Homo sapiens: one gene and its partners. The protein of the gene in region 2 interacts with the protein of the main gene of each other region in a biochemical or structural test. Each region holds a gene or a part of one and is shown on either strand. Other genes may lie near its edges.

Region 1 (4,578 bases), on a different chromosome or scaffold from region 2:
GTTTCATCCTTTGAGACAGAAAGAGGTAATAATGGGTGACATGGAAACAACTGGGCTTGTGTTTACTCTCTAAACTATAAGGAAAGATCTTATACTGAGAATAAGGAGAGCCCAAAAGATGCAAGAGCTTAAGAAATGGTGAGAGTTTGGAATCACTGCAGTGGGCATGGCGAAAAATTGGACTGGAGACATGCAAACAGACTTGCTGGTTAAGAGAATCAGGTGCTATGAATTGGGCAAAATGGGAAAGAACCAAAACAAGAATGAAAGTTCACTCCAGGTCATCCTTATCCTAATGCACAATGTCCATTCTCATTGAACGTCTTCACTGTCAGTAGGCAGGTTTGGGCATTAAATGGTTACATAATTATGAACTCAGTGGTAAATTCCTTGTAATGTTTATATAATTCATCAGGTCTATGGGCCCTTATTAACAGAAAATGCCAGCATTTAATTATTTTTATTTCAAAACCGGTTTTATTGAATTCTGCAAGGAATAACTTCAGGGAAAAGAAAACACATTGAAACAGATACTCTCCTCTCTTTTCAATAAAGCCAACAGTCTAAAGATGTTAAAGAAATAAATCACATATAATGATCATCTAACTCTGAAAATTAAAACCCATTTAGGGATTATGAAGGAACCTTGATCCTGGATACCAGTCTAAGTTATTCGTCTAATATCTTTAATAATGTTTGGAAAGTAATTAATCAACTTATGACATAGATTCAAGGGCTGTCACCTTTCATTGTCATTAATGAAACTGTCTGGGATTTTATCTGCACTTTTCTGGTGATTTAAAGAACAATTTTTTTTTGGTAAGTTCTTTGAAGACCAAAAGAATGTTTAAAATCACTGGGCCTTGACGTACAGATTTCAATGAACAATAATCCAAGTATGTGTTAGTGAGACCGAAATAAAATTTAGAAATATCTTAATTTTGACAAGACAGAAAGGGAATTTTTGAAAAGTCCAAAATGCATATTCATTTATGTTAGGAGGAAGTTTTTTTTTTTGTCAACAATCTCTGCTTTGGTTACTTCTTTACATAATACAAATTACAAATATCATACTATTTGATACTCATTAAAAACAACAATAGCTAAGGTAATATTTTAAGCCCAAAGGTTTGCCTAGGTCCTAAGTGATCATATTGGCTTGCTGTCTTTGTATTAACCAGATGGTTGTGAGACCACAGTCTCACTTTGGACAGTGTAGCCATTGGCTGGAGCCATATGAATTCTGCCTGAAGTGAGGGCAGAATCAGATGAAAGTGGCTCACCTAAGACCCTCAGAGGAGCCAAAAGACAAGTAGTGAAGGCAGGCCTTGATAGAAGCTTTCCTTGAATCTTTATATCACTGTCTAAATTCGTATTTAGAATAGAAAAATACAATTCCTACATCCATGCTAGTATGAACTTTGTATAGTCAAGGACCAAAGAAATGGTTTCAAGGTAGTATCCTCAAGGAAAGCTAATATATATCCCCAGAGACAATATCCCAGTGGAAAAGGATTACAGATAACAGGTTTTAGGGCCATAACTTTTGGTCCCAACAGGAATTTATAGATTATAATGAGCTAGATATGCTAGAATATTTCAGTCATGAAAATGGTGTAAAACCTTTATAAATTTGCCTGAGTTTTCTTTTTATATTTTGATTTCCTCAGAGAAAATGGAATTTCATTTAGAGTGCCTGGGAGTAGATAACAGAGTGCTTAGAACATGCCTCTGACACTCAGAATAAAAGCTTTCTCTGCTTCTGTGACATATTCCTGCTATTCTTCCTGGTAACTGAGGGGAGGACAGACTAAGAGGCCCAATTTAGGACTGGATAGATGATAGTCTATCTTTCTCCAGAATCAAACCACATGTAACACAAGTTGGCAGAAATTTAGACTTTGTAAAGCAATGTCTAAATTTTCCCACCATTTCCCAAGGTGGGAAAATGGTAAAGGTACCATTTTCCCATGAGCTTTACTTTATTCCATACCCTCCCTCCCCCACTTTTTCTGAGACAGGGTCTCTCTTTGTCACCCATGCTGGAGTGCAGTGGTATGATCTCGGCTCACTACAGCCTTGGCCTCCCAGGCTCAGGTGATCCTCCCACCTCAGCCTCCTGAGTAGCTGGGACTGCAAGTGTGCGCCACCATGTCCAGCTACTTTTTGTAATTTTTTTAAGAGGGGGGTTTTGCTATGTTGCCCAGGCTGGTCTCAAACTCCTGAGCTCAAGCCATCCACCCACCTTGGCCTCCTAAAGTGCTGGGATTACAAGCGTGAGCCACTGTGCCTGGCCTATACACCATTTTGACCTGCCTCTTTCCTACTTAGAATTCAGGCAGCCTGATTCTTAATGGGACACCCTCTTTATGACTTAGGGTGCACTCAAGCCCATGACCCTTCAGCATATCCCGCCCACCTTTCCCCTTCCTTTGCTCATTGATCCAATATCCCATCTAAACCTCCAGGCCTTCTCCTTTATTATCTATTTTCTATATATGGCATAAGAATTGTCATAAAAAATCTTTCTTAAATTGAACTACATTTTCCCAACTGTTCAAATACTCAGGCATTCATTCATTTTTCAAGTTGTGAGACCTTTACATTGGAATTTTAAAAGTCATGTAAATACGAATGTGTACAAAAACACTGATATATGATTTATTACTGATGGTTTGGTTCCACCAATGAAATAAAAATTAGGCATGTCTAAACAAAGCTGTATAAATAAGTCAGTGCTGATACAGTGCCATCTACAATTAAATGTCAAAACAAGCTGTAATGATAATGTATTTAGTAAATCTTCAGGTTAACCTAAGAGAATCTCTATTTTAAGACCCTATTAACACAATTTTCCTTTTACCCCCCCGCCCCCTCAAGATATAAGAAATTGCCAATTCCATCACCCCAAATGTGATACTAAAACAGCATGCTTTTCACCAGGAAAGGTTTTCTGAGGATAAAAATGTGATGAGCCATTAGAAATTCACAATATGGTATCAAGAAAGATCTCAATGCCTATATTTTAGCATGATAGTTTATTTCTTTAAGAGAGAAGGAGCTGCTGTCTCCAAAGCAGCCATTCTTTAATCATGTCATTTGAAATGCACTTAAAGCTATGTCAAATTCATATAGGAAGTCTGGTTACCAGAAAATACACATTCACAAACAGGAAATCTAACTACAGCAAGAAGGTGTTTTCCCCCGACACAATAGAGTTCAAAGATGTGTCATCCATGTAATTTGGAGCAATACCCAACACCACTCTTATTGCTGAGTATTCCTCTCTCCCCTCTCCTATATTATGACAACTCGTGATTATAGCATTACGTTTTCTAAGCCTGTTTGGACTTGCTGCTCTTGCTTATACATACAAGCGACCTGCCCTTTTTCTGTGCATAGCTTTCAATCAGTAAGCATGTCAAGGTGGGAGGAAGGATGACAGGAATAGTAAAAGGGGGAAAATCAATTTTCAGAAAGCATATGGCAACAACTGAATATTTAATCAAATTAGTCTAGAAATTCCTTCCTATTTTCAGCACTCTTTGCAAGGCAGTTGCTTCATGGTGCAAAATGAATTTCAATAAATGTCATATATTTAGTTAGATGGCTTATTTTAAAAATTTGTCGAACAAGGTCACTGACTTAGAATAGATCTTATTCCAAGGTATGACAGATGGATATCAATATTGAATAGAAGAACTGACATTAGCTAGAAGTTTCTGGGCAGAAGAAAGAGTCATTCAACACTCTACAAAATACTTACTGAGTACCTACTATGTGCCAGAATAAAATGATGAATATTTGGGCTTTGTATTTATATTACAAAACAGAGAGGAAATGTGTCAAAATAATTTCCTTGGGGTTAGTAAGGATTACAACTGAGTATTACTGGTAAACAAGGACTTTAAAAAGTGCTTAAAATTTTCACATTGCATCATTCAAACATCCATACTGTCATGGTTGCAAGATTTTAGACCTAATCAGATTTTTGAGGATGCTGTTTATTGACGCTTAGCAAAAACCAACTTCCTATTTTTTTCTGGAACAAAAAGGCCTTACACAATTTTAGAGATCTCTTGGACATCAAAGAGCTTAGAGGGACATACAGTTTGTGAGTAATGATTTAAGATTTAGTGAATCAAAGACACATGGATTAAATTTCCCTTAAAAGACCCCTAGGTTTAAAATTTAATAGCTAAAATGCTGGTCTAGATACACTCTGGTCCCAATGCTGGTCCCAAGCAAAGCCAAAACCTATTTTTAAAGCTAGGTTGAATTGTCTTATGGACCCAAACCTTGGCTGGGTTTTCCTTTCCCACATGATTAGGCCTCAAAGGAGGCAACCTATCTCTAATAAATTTACCACTTCTCTTTTTCTCTGACTTGCAAAGACCATATTATTTCAAAGGTCTCAGCTTTGAATGTCTTTCTTTACATTTTTAATAAAATATTAAAAATTAGAAATCTTCCACGGTCTTATCAAACAGTTATTCCCCAAGTCATTCTTTTTTAAAAAAAAACATACATTTTCAAATTGGACCTGAGAGTCTAGGTGCTGCCTCAGAATTCCAACTA
Region 2 (3,773 bases):
CTGGCAAACTTCTTTTACAAAGAGTCAGAGAGTAAATATTTCAACTTTGCAGGCTGTACCATCCGTCTCAATTATGTAGCTCTGCTGTTGTAGCGGATGCCAGAGGTCACACGTGAACCAATGAGCGTGCCTGGGTTCTAATATAGCTTTATTGATAAACATGGAAATATGAATTTTATCTGATTTTCACAGGTTACAAAATACTATCTTTACAAAAATGTGGGGCCAGGTGTGATAGCTCATGCCTGTAATCCCAGTGCTTTGGAAGGCTGAGGCAGGAGGATTTTTTGAGGCCAGGAGTTTGAGACCTGCCTGGGCAATGTAGTGAGACCCCATCTCTACAAATCTTTTTTTTTTTTGAGAGGGTCTTGCTTTGTCACCCAGGCTGGAGTGCAGTGGTGCAATCATGGCTCACTGCAGCCTCGACCTCCCAGGCTCAAGCAATCCTCCCACCTCAGCCCCCAGAGTAGCTGACTACAGGCGTGCGCCACCATGCCTGGCTAATTTTTTTATTTTTTGTGGAGACGGGCTTGCTGTGTTGCCCAGGCTGGTCTCAAAGTCCTGGCCTCAAGCAATCCTCTCCTCTCAGCCTCCCAAAGCACTGGGAATACAGGTGTGAGCCACTACGCAGACCAAATATCCATGTTTCTTTCCACACCTGGGCTCTCATTTTTGTCCCTCCCACCTTGACACTGTCCTCCACCCCCACCTCACTTCCTCCTTCTTTCCATCTCCACCAGTGCCCAGGAAAGCCCCTTCTGCAGCCAGTAGCCACAGGAAACATTTAAAACCACCAGTTCCGGCCAGGTGTGGTAGCTCACGCCTATAATCCCAGCACTTTGGGAGGCCGAGGTGAGCGGATCATGAGGTCAGGGGTTTGAGACCAGTCTGGCCAACATGGTGAAACCCCGTCTCTACTAAAAATACAAAAATTAGCACGCACCTGTAGTCCCAGCTACTCAGGAGGCTGAGGCAGGAGAATCGCTTGAACCTGGGAGGCGGAGGTTGCAGCGAGCCTAGACTGTGCCATTCCACTCCAGCTTGGTCGACAAAGCAAGACTCCGTCTCAAAAAAAAAAAAAAAAAAAGTCCTCCCATGCATACACTCTCCTTTGGCTCCTCCCTGGTGCAACTGGACTAGAATCCCAGCTCCTCACCTTGGCTCCAAGGCCCTGCACTATTGGCCCTTCCTGACCCTGGGGCTTCAACTTCTGACAATCTCTCTCTCACTAACCCCAATCCATCTATATGCTGGCTTTTTTTGTTCTGTTTTCCAAACACACCAAGCCCCAGGACTTTTGCAAGTGCCATTCCCGCTGCCTGGAATGTCCTCCCTGTGTCTGTGTGTATGACTGGCTCCTCCTCACCTTGCAGATCTCAGCTATAAGCCACCTCCTCTAGGAAGCCTTCCCTGACTGCCTTCCCCCACTTGCACCCCCCACCTCCACTGATGTCCATCACACCAGCCTGTTTCATTTGTACCACTGTCATAACTTCCCCTGCTGGGCAGGGGGCTTGGAGAGCACTTAGACTTCAACCTAGGGGTGCCTAAAGGTCTCCCAAACCCCAAGATGCTGTGATACATTCATTCATCTACTCCACAGATTCATTAGTTAAGCACCTTCAATATGGCAGGTCCTTTCAGAGGGGTGGGAGAAGCAAAGGCAAACAAGCCAGATGGAGTCTCCAGTCTCTCAGAGCTCACAGTCTGACTGGAAAGGCAGCCAGGGAGCATGTAAACCCATAAGTAAATAGGATTTTGAGGAACACTTTTGGGAAGTCCGCTGCAGTGAATAAACAGGGTAATGTGAAGGAGAATCCAGAAGGTGTTGCTTTAGGTCTGGGGCCTGGGGAAGGAGGCACTTGAAGGAGAAATGAATGAAGACATGGGAAATCTAGGGGCAGGGCACACAGTTTGTGCAAAGGACCTGAGGTGGGGCCGGCACACGCAGAGACCCCGAGGCTAGCTTGGTGTGTCTGAACAACAGACGGTATGGCAGCAGGGCTGGCGCTGGGTAGGTGACAGGCAGAAAGAGGACCTCAGATTGTAGTTTGAATTTTAATCTCGGTGTTGCAAAAGCACTGGAAAGGTTTAAAGCACCAAGCTGTAGGATCGCATTCTCATTCTAGAAGGAGCCTCCTCTGGAAGCTGTTGACCACCTCCACTCCTGCCCCTCAGCCAGGTGGGAGGTGCCAGCCTCCTGTCATATACATACCTCCTCAGGGGCAGACACCGGGCAGGCAGCTTCCTCGGCCACTGCGTTGGAGTAGAGGAAGAGATCCTCGTAATCCACGTTTGCGGGATCCTTCTGCAGGGCGGAAGGGGCCTGTAGCTCAGCACTAGGGAGGGGGAAAGGTCCTGCACGGACCCTGGAAGGCAGGTCTCAGGGACCATCCCTTGAATAGCAGTTTCTTAGTACCTAGGCCACGCCCACTAAGCGTTATAAGAAAATATGCCCCACCCACAGCCATTTCTTAGGGATTGGGACACACCCACTGAGCCTTCTAAAGAAAGATGCCCCGCCCATAGCACGTTCTTGGGAGCTAGGCCACACCCACTGAGCCTTCTAAGGAAAGATGCCCCGCCCACAACAGTTTCTTGGGCGCTAGGTCAGGCCCACTGAGTCCTATAAGGAAAGATGCCCCACCCACAGCAGTTTCTTGGGAGCTAGGCCACACCCACTGAGCCTTCTAAGGAAAGATGCCCCACCTACCACAATTTCTTGGGAGCTAGGCCAGGCACACCAAGCCCTATAAGGAAAGATGCCCTGCCCACAGCAGTTTCTTGGGGACTAGGCAACACCCACTGAGCCTTCTAAGGAAAGATGCCCCGCCCACAGCAGTTTATTGGGAGCTAGGCCACACCCACTGAGCCTTCTAAGGAGAGATAACCCCCCTCAGCAGTTTCTTAGGGGCTAGGCCACGCCCACTGGGCCTTCTAAGGAAACATGCCCTGCCCACAGCAGTTTATTGGGAGCCAGGCCACCCACTGAGCCTTCTAAGGAAAGCGTATTGGGAGCCAGGCCACGCCCACCGAGCTTCTAAGGAAAGATGCTCCACCCACAGCAGTTTATTGGGAGCCAGGCCACACCCACTGAGCCTTCTAAGGAAAGATGCTCCACCCACAGCAGTTTATTGGGAGCCAGGCCACACCCACTGAGCCTTCTAAGGAAAGCGTATTGGGAGCCAGGCCACGCCCACCGAGCCTTCTAAGGAAAGATGTCATTCCTTCAGATGAGCCAAGATTATACCTGGCACATGAACCCTTATAAAAAATCAGCCTGTTGACATGGGCCTGGAGGGCGGAGCCATGGGGAAGCAGGAACCACAACGGAGACCGCTGTGGGGGGCAGAGGGACTACTGGGGTGGGGCCGGAGGGGCCAAGGACCATGAGAGTGACAGAATCAAGAGGAGCTGATGGGGGCGTGGGAAACAAAGGGGTCTGGGGGGCTTGGCCCCAAGGAAATGGCTGTGAACCTTGTGGGTCCCCGCCCTCACCTGCCTGCAGGGCTGTGTCAGCAGCTCCCTGCGCGGCTCAATTGGCTTCTGCTGGTGGAAGGTGACCAGGGCGTCCAGCGAGGTGTGGGCCACCTTCTCCCCGGGGATCATGAAAGTCCCATCATCCAAGAGCTTCACCATGAAATGGCAGCAGCTGCTTTGGGCTCTGCGGAGACACTGCGGGGGCTGGGACATCCTACTCCCCCTCATCCCTGCCCCAAGTCCCCAGCCCTTGGGCCGGCAGCGTCACTGCTACAGCCAGACTACCCCAGGTT
Region 3 (3,871 bases), on a different chromosome or scaffold from region 2:
ATAAAGCAAATAAGTTAATTTACTGGCAAAAATAACTTCTTGGTTATATGTACAGCTTTTATGTAAAGATTAAATCGAAGTTCTACCAAGTGTATGTGGACATATGTGAGTTTCAAGATTCATCACAGGGCTAACTCGTCTCAAATTCCTATAGGGAAGGACACAGAGAATTGATCTTCATGGGAAACCATAATTTTAATAGCTTAAATATTCTCTATGCGGTAGTTTGATAGTTCACTTAAACAGTGTCCAAATTGCTAGAATCTCTTATGAAAAAATCAGGCATTCGAGGGCAAAGATGAAGTCAGTGTTTCACAAAGTGGGGTGTAGGATCTCAGAGATCCACTATGGCTTAAGAAAGGAACAGGACAGCATCGGGGGACTACTTTGAACCAGGGTGGTAGAAAGGGAAGAGAGCAGTGCCAGTTGTGTCAATGGGCAAAAAAGGGAAGGATTCTATTTTCCTCTAAAGGTCAGAGAGAAATACATTTTTCTTTGATTCCTAACAAGGTAATCACTTACTTGCAAAGCTGACTGTCAAAGAGTATTTTCCAGAGGAAGCATGTGAATACCCCCCGTGAAATTGGGGCTTAGAGTCATTTTAGCTTGTGACTATAGAAGCATTTACTTCTGCCCAAAATGTCACCTGGCCAGGAATTAGGTGAGGCAGGGGCCTGCAAAAGTGACAGATCCTACATTTTTGGACCTCTACAAAATCAGTGAGACTTGAACCGAGTATCTGAAATTTCTATTATTTTAGAGAGACTTTTAATGAAAAGAAAAAAGCAGCTCACACTGCTAAAAGATATTTGCCCACACAAACACAAGGGCCCCTGGCCCGACACAATGCCCACAACAGCTTCTTGTTTCCAACTGCAGAGAGAACTCAGATCTCTGGGATCAGAAAAATTTTATTAATTCTACCCAGAAGTATAAAAACTGGCCCCATTGTAATATCAGTAATAATGAGGTCTCCACTGATAATGATCTTTTAAAATTATGCCTGATCTCATCTGTATAATATTTGTTCTTAAGCAAATAGCAACCAGGCGATACCAATCTGCATTTATATGTTTACATGGGGCAAGGCTGTCCTTCAAACTGATACACACCGAAGTCCATGTACACAAACAGAGGCACAGTAAGATCCTCTGCCCACAGTATATACAGTAGAAGTTAATTTATCTGTTTCTTTTTTTTTTTTTAACAACTAGAAGCTGATGTTGTAGGATCAGCTCTAGGATCCTCTGCCCACAGTATACAGTAGAAGTTAATTTATCTGGTTTTTTTAACAACTAGAAGCTGATGCACATGGATTTCTCATTTGCCCTATAACAATCATCATTCTAATAACTAAAGTCCAAAAGAATGGCAATGCAATAGTTTGAAACGCTTGGTTTAGCATTTATTTATCAGAAAAATTGTGATTCTTTGTTGTCATTTTTGGAGGCAAGAGGGCATAGTGAGAAAAGAAAGGACATATCACCAATTAACTGTATTTTGTTTGTTTGCTAGCTAAATGACACCACTCCTTTTTTTTTTTGTCTCTGCATAAGGTAATAGAACATTTACATTTTCTTTACTTCATCTTGAAGACCCTTACTTAGTCATATGTAACATGTTTGCCTATTAAATTCTGCAAGGTGGTGTTTATTTAAAAAAATAAATAAATACAATTTTCTTTACATTTAAAAAGTGATAAAGGAATAAGAGAATGAGAAAAAATTGTTCATTGTAATGCTTTAAAGCAAGTTTTCCCAAGTGGAACCATATATGCCTACTTTCAGCTAAACCCAACAAACAACAATTTTAAATGGCAAACTTATCTTTTTACTATGCAAAATCCATCCTACATTTTTATATCCTGCATTTAACTTTGTTACATTATACTTGTGGTTAGTTTTCTAGTTTGATTTATTTAATAATATTAAAATCATTTAACATCTGATAACCTAACTAAATCTACATCTTATAGCATTATCGTGGTTCTGTCCAGTTATATACATGCTTTCATGATCACCTTTTCTATTACCTTATGAACTACATATACTAGTTAAATTATCAACAATTACAGATGGATGAATAATTCCAGTTTTGAAATAAAGGTTAGAGAGCTCTAGAAAAACTTGTATTTACATCCTTCCCTGTCAGGCTTAAACAATTTTAATTTTCTTTTCATTTTTGATACTTCAAGAAGCACATTAATAGTCCTTCCAACTTCATCTAGTAGCAGAGCCTCACACAGTCCTTTTCTTGATTTTTCCTTAGCATTGTAAGTATGCACAATCTTCATGCCATGTCTTTCCTTTAGAAGGTATTAGCTCACACACTATAACACTTAAACACTATTCCTTCTCTTAAATTAGATATTCAGTCCTTCTCCCTAATCTACAAAAAAGAATCACTTGATTTTAGTTTGTGTGTTTTAATAGAAATTTGAGTTTTGCGTTGTTTTTCATGCTATTTTAAGAATGTTACTGGAGAAAGGATTCTCATCCTAAGCTGTGCTACTAATACTATGCAGAAAACCAGGAGCTGCTTGGTAGTCTAACACCTTTTGTGGTGCAGATGCTTTGTGGTTCTGGATCTATCCTAGATCAGAGGCCATCTTTCCTCACCTGTTTACCACTTTCTTTAGGCAATCATTTAACTGCAAAATTTTTCCATACCTGCCCAAAATAGGTATAATCTACAAAGTTGGGTGATTTAAAAAATATACTCCGTGTAATTTTAATACTAATTTGTCTCAGATTTACATAATTGATTCTGCAAATTTCAATTGCTACAATTGGCCTCTGGAATCTGATATCCCCCCAAGCACTTTGAAGACTTTAACTGACATTTTAAAATTCTACCCTACTGGACTAAATAAGTTATTCTCTGGAAGGAATGAAACTTTTTTTCTCCCTCTTATACATGCTGAAATATGTTTTCCCAGGGGGGACAAAAATAAAACAAAAAACACTCAAACAACTGAAGTCAATTATATACTACAGAAATCATTCAAAAGAATTATAAAGTGGTGCTATTATAAAGCATTTGGGTCATTTTGGATTATTCCTACATGCATCTCTAGGTATTACCCAACATGTAGAAGTCTTGTGTTCTTAGGAGGAAAGAGACATTCACTAAATACATTTCTGTTACCTTAACAGTTAAAAGTTTGTTTTAACTATTCATTTTTTCCTTCTCCAAAATGAGTGATTCTGCTTTCTATAGCCCAGTAGAAACCATATGCATATTGTAAATCAGAAAAAAAAAATCAAGGTATAGTATCCAAAAAGAGGGCTGTGATGACTCGATGCAGATTTATTTAGAAAGGGAGGCTTATATTCAATTTTTCATAAGTACTGATATGAGATCCCTTTTCCTAGAGACTTCTCTGAATGGATAGGAGAGCCCTGAGCTATTAGATTGTGGCCCCTGAATCACTCTGTGTCTTTACCCCTGAAAAGTTTGAGGGTGAACTTCACTAGAAGGAATCTCACAAACCCTTCTCCTGCTCTACCATACTTTTTCAGCTCGCCTCACTTCTTATAGCTTAGAAAAAAACCAACTCCAATGTCTCCAATATTCTTGGCCAAGGACCACCATCTGCTTTTGGTTTAATGGTGAAGTTAGACTCTAGATAGGCTAATTAGTCAGTGATGCAATATTCTCCTAGACCAGTTTATGTTTGAATAATATTATTGAAATTATCCTGTTTGTCAACATCAACAATTTGAAGGATGTTTAACTTATATCCCAAATGAGTTTAAAGGAGATATCTTACAGTACAACTGATTATATGACAGCTATTCACAAAAGAGACTATGCAATCTGATTGTTGGAACGCATAGAAAAATTAAAATGTCATTTTAATTAAATCTCC
Region 4 (4,578 bases), on a different chromosome or scaffold from region 2:
GGAGGCAGAGGTTGCAGTGAGCAGAGATCATGCCACTGTACTCCAGCCTAGACGACAAAGTGAGATCCTATCTCAAAAAAAAGAAAATAATAATAATAATAAAAAAGTACCCGAGGTAGAATTCCACTTGTAAAATTCTTGAGCCCTCTAGTCACTCAGCTCTTTCCAGGATAGGCACCCCAAATCTCAGTCCCTCATTCAAGATTTGTAAGCAACTGTCCCTGGGCCTTTTTCACTCAGAGCCTTACTGCCCCAGTCAAGTAAAATTCGATTCCTTCTCTGGGTCTGTTCTTTCCTAAGTCCCTAAGCCTGGAGGGTTCTGCGTCCCTCCTTTCATTTACACAGAAATACTGTTTCTTTCAAAAGCCTACATTTTGCAATTTATTTTCCTTTCAGAAGCTTTCCTTCACTACCTCTTACCCAAACCTTGAGCCCCTCTTTCTTCTTCCATGTTCCTTGTAGGACCTGTGCTAAGTAATTCATTTGTTTGGTACTTGTTCATTGTGTTTTGTGACTGATTCTCACTTGCATTTCATAGGTAATGATAATTACCTTGGCTATTTCCTAACTTCATAACCTATTTATGCTTGAGGTTGCAATTTTTTGAATGTTTGCAATCAGACCTTGGCGATGACCTTGAGCAGTGGGATATAAATAACTCCCACATGCTTAGCGTTCCAATAATGGAACACTAGGCATAAATGGGATAATCTAATATAGTTTTTTGAGACGGCATCTTGCTCTGTCGCCCAGGCTGGAGTGGAATGGTGCAATTGTGGCTCACTGTAGCCTCCGCCTCCTGGGTTCAAGCGATTCTCCTGCCTCAGCCTCCTGGGTAGCTGGAACTACAGGCGTGTGCCACCATGCCTGGATAATTTTTGTATTTTTAGTAGAGATGGAATTTCACCATGTTGGCCAGGCTGGTCTTGAAGAACTCCTTACCTCAAGTGACCCATCTGCCTCAGTCTCCCAAAGTGCAGGGATTATAGGTGTGAGCCACTGTGCCCGGCCATAATCTAATATAGTTTTAAAATATATTTTTAAATAGCACCTAAAGAATTGGGTTGAGCTACATAAAAGTGCTTTTTTTTTGAGACGGAGTCTCGCTCTGTCGCCAAGGCTGGAGTGCAGTGGCGCGATCTCGGCTCACTGTAAGCTCCACCTCTCGGGTTCACACCATTCTCCTGCCTCAGCCTCTGGAGTAGCTGGGACCACAGGTGCCTGCCACCAAGCCCGGCTAATTTTTTTTTGTATTTTTAGTAGAGACAGGGTTTCACTGTGTTAGCCAGGATGGTCTTGATCTCCTGACCTCGTGATCCACCCGCCTCGGCCTCCCAGAGTGCTGGGATTGCAGGCATGAGCCACCGCGCCCGGCCAAATGTGCTATTTTTTAATAGGTGAAAAATAGTAAAATATCAACAGTGTTATATGGTTAAACTGAATATTTATATTGGAATTCAATAAATGTTCTTAAAATGTCTTCTTGTCACCTTTTACTTCAGGATATTTAAAAACTGCCCCAATATGTCTAAGTCTGTCGCTCTAAAACTGGTAAACAGCTTCTCCCCAAACTAATTAAAGGATTCAGTGCTTTTTCCAAATGTCAAGTTCCTATTATAAAAATAAAACATTATATTGTGTAACTAAAATAACAAAGAATTGTATGACATTTCTGGAAATGTAGCAGAAAAGAAGAATTCAAGTTGAATAGTAATATCTTGAACTTACCTTCTTCTGTTGGATTAAACCCACAGATGTCACAAATACAACGAACCCACTTATTCATCTCCTCCTCGCTGTCTGCTACCAAGTAGAAAATCCGGTCAATAGTGTTGATATCAAAAATGTAGCTGTTTTCAAACTCTTTTTTGTTAAATGTCAATCCAGCATCTACTTGTTGACATAAATTTAAATCAATAATACGAATAGGCTTCTTGGCATGATCATTTTTGTAATATTCCAAAACATCTGGATCTCCAGTTAAACGGCCACTGCGTAACACGAACCATCTCCTCTTCCATGCCTAGAAACAAAACAAAAATATCCATTCAGTATTAACTTGAGATAATGTTTTCAAGAAGATGCACATTTATCAAACTGATTTTACAAATGCATTGTTTAGAGAAAGTCACAATATGTGTGTGTTTGTGTGTGTGTTTTTACCACAGGATAATCTGCCACTCTGAAAAGCAACGTTTACTCATAACTCAATTAACTTAATAATGTATATATATATTCAGTATGTTCGATTAAATCTCCTACTATATAATATTGAGGCAATACATCAAGGAGGATTCAGTTTTTACTAAATATGAAAAAGTCATGGTTTCAACAAATGGTGTTAGGAAAACTAGAAATCCATACGCAAAAGAATGAAGCTGGACATTATGCTAAGTGAAATAAGCCAGTCATAAAAAGACAAATATTGTATGATTCCACTTATATGAGGTAGTTCAAGTAGTCAAATTCATACAGACAGAAAGCAGAATGGTATTTGTCAGGCCCTGCGGAGGGGGAGGGGTGGGAAATGGAGAGTTATTACAGTATTTAATGGGCCTAGAGTTTGAGTTGAAGAAGATCAAGTTCTGGAGATGATGGTGGCCATGGTTGCAATGGTGCTGTGAATGTATTAATACTTAATGCTAGTGAATTGTATATTAAAAATAGCTAAAATGATAAATTTTATGTTATGTATATTTTGCCACAATTTTTAAAAAAGCAACAGATTTTCATGCATTAATATTATGCCATAAAGAATACACATAAAGCTGCTTCTTCATAAGACTCCTACAGATTTTAAACACTTAAAAGATTTCTCTTTTTTTTAGGTGCGGTGGCAAGGAGTAGGGAGGGGGAAAGGTTTTGAAGCTTTTCTGGCTTCTTGACTGGGAAGCAATTGATTGTGTCTCTCTTTTAGCCACACAGCCTGTTGTTCAAAGACTATACGAGTAAGACCTGTATTCTTGAGTATGGGATTTAACTCTTTCTAATATTTCCCCTCCTCTTCCCAACAAACATACATGGGCAATCTGTAATACACTCACCACATACCCCCTCCACAAGTTCTGGTAAATTTTGAGTTTAATACTATACCTAGAGAAGCCTAAAAAATTATTTTACTATCACCCTCCCTAAATCTATGGTCACCAAATAATAAAAGCAGAACCAAATGACAAACAGCCTTCCTTATCAGCCTTTAACCCCAACATGTGTGCCTGGAAACAAACTTACACCTTACTCCTCTTTGAAATTCTTCCTCAGGGAGGCAGCTAGACAGAAAAGAGGCCTATTTTAGCAAGTCTCAGTCATTTACTAAGAAACATTCTCTGCTCCAGATTCAACATTCTAGGTAAGACTACCTCAAGAGGACACTCTGGGCCTGGGTGCAGTGGCTCATGCCTGTAATCCCAGCACATTGGGAGGCCGAGGTGGGCAGATCACCTGAGGTCAGGAGTTCGAGACCAGCCTGGCCAACATGGTGAAACCCCGTCTCTACTAAAAAATACAAAAATTAGCTGGGTGTGGTGGCAGGTTCCTGTAATCCCAGCTACTTAGGAGGCTGAGGCAGGAGAATCGCTTGAACCCGGAGTTGGCAGTTGCAGTGAGCTGAGATCACTGCGCTCCAGCCTGGACAGAAGAAGACTCCTCCTCAAAAAAAAAAAAAAAAAAAAAAAAGGGCAGCGGGGTGGTGGGGATGCTCTGGGAAGTGGAAGGACTCGAAAACCCCCAGTGGAATAAAACATTCCCTTTGCTACTTGTGGGAAGAAAAACAAGTATATAATTCATTATTCCTACCTTCAAAGAATTGACTAATTGTGGAAAAAAATATTTAACATACATGAAAATACTTGAGACTACAGCAACCCAGGCAAAATGTCTGCAGAGGTATTGCTACATGAACAAGCATTCCTCTACAGAAAAATTTAGGCAATCCTTTAACAAGAGGATGACCAGAGATCACAAAGGCCTAAAAACATTATATAGGTCTTTAATCATCAACATTTTAAATTAACTTCTCATTCTTCACGCAGCTCAAAGGAATAAGTATATAATTTGTGTCCAGGGAAGGCAGGGTAGAGTCCTATAGATGTTTTAGATAATATTGAAAAGTCATAAAGTGTTGGATTCACATGATTTTAGCACTGTTTTCTGGACTATAAAAATCCATTCATTGAATATGCATCTACTTACTGCAAAATAAATAAATATCATCTCTTAGTAAAATTATCCCTCTATGGATACTTCCCTCTCAAGCAGTAAGCTTTAAAAAGTAATGCAGAAGTAAAGCAAAAGAATATAAAATATGATGTTATTTATGCAGGGCCCTCAAGAAATCATATCATTCAGTAAGTGATTTCTCCAGATAGTGAAGCTTCATCTTTAAATACAGAAATGACTTTTTAAAACTTTATTGTCTTGCACGCAAATCTTTCTAAAATGCTTTACTACATACTTCACCAAACATAATCCATTCCCCAATGATTCAGACTAAGTATTGTAAGCATCCATTTCTATACTGCACTTCAGGAGACTCTCAGAGGCTGTTGCACTGTATAGAGTGTCATTTGCCCCTATACT

The links.
Region 1: the proteins of HSH2D (region 2) and MET form a complex in vitro, tested with the Homo sapiens proteins (one large-scale study listed by BioGRID and IntAct).
Region 3: the proteins of HSH2D (region 2) and ERBB4 form a complex in vitro, tested with the Homo sapiens proteins (one large-scale study listed by BioGRID).
Region 4: the proteins of HSH2D (region 2) and GAB1 form a complex in vitro, tested with the Homo sapiens proteins (one large-scale study listed by BioGRID and IntAct).

What each region holds. Positions count from the first base shown.
Region 1 is NC_000007.14:116,678,378-116,682,955, reverse strand, and holds part of MET (hepatocyte growth factor receptor isoform b preproprotein), read right to left. Parts: intron 1-4,578. UniProt on the Homo sapiens protein: Receptor tyrosine kinase that transduces signals from the extracellular matrix into the cytoplasm by binding to hepatocyte growth factor/HGF ligand. Regulates many physiological processes including proliferation, scattering, morphogenesis and survival.
Region 2 is NC_000019.10:16,152,934-16,156,706, reverse strand, and holds part of HSH2D (hematopoietic SH2 domain-containing protein), read right to left. Parts: exon of another isoform or gene 3,665-3,773; coding exon 3,499-3,664; intron 2,309-3,498; coding exon 2,216-2,308; coding exon of another isoform or gene 2,092-2,215; exon of another isoform or gene 2,045-2,091; intron 1,066-2,044; coding exon of another isoform or gene 944-1,065; intron 1-943. UniProt on the Homo sapiens protein: May be a modulator of the apoptotic response through its ability to affect mitochondrial stability. Adapter protein involved in tyrosine kinase and CD28 signaling. Seems to affect CD28-mediated activation of the RE/AP element of the interleukin-2 promoter.
Region 3 is NC_000002.12:211,377,696-211,381,566, forward strand, and holds part of ERBB4 (receptor tyrosine-protein kinase erbB-4 isoform JM-a/CYT-1 precursor), read right to left. Parts: 3' UTR 1-3,871. UniProt on the Homo sapiens protein: Tyrosine-protein kinase that plays an essential role as cell surface receptor for neuregulins and EGF family members and regulates development of the heart, the central nervous system and the mammary gland, gene transcription, cell proliferation, differentiation, migration and apoptosis.
Region 4 is NC_000004.12:143,412,922-143,417,499, reverse strand, and holds part of GAB1 (GRB2-associated-binding protein 1), read right to left. Parts: intron 2,024-4,578; coding exon 1,729-2,023; intron 1-1,728. UniProt on the Homo sapiens protein: Adapter protein that plays a role in intracellular signaling cascades triggered by activated receptor-type kinases. Plays a role in FGFR1 signaling. Probably involved in signaling by the epidermal growth factor receptor (EGFR) and the insulin receptor (INSR).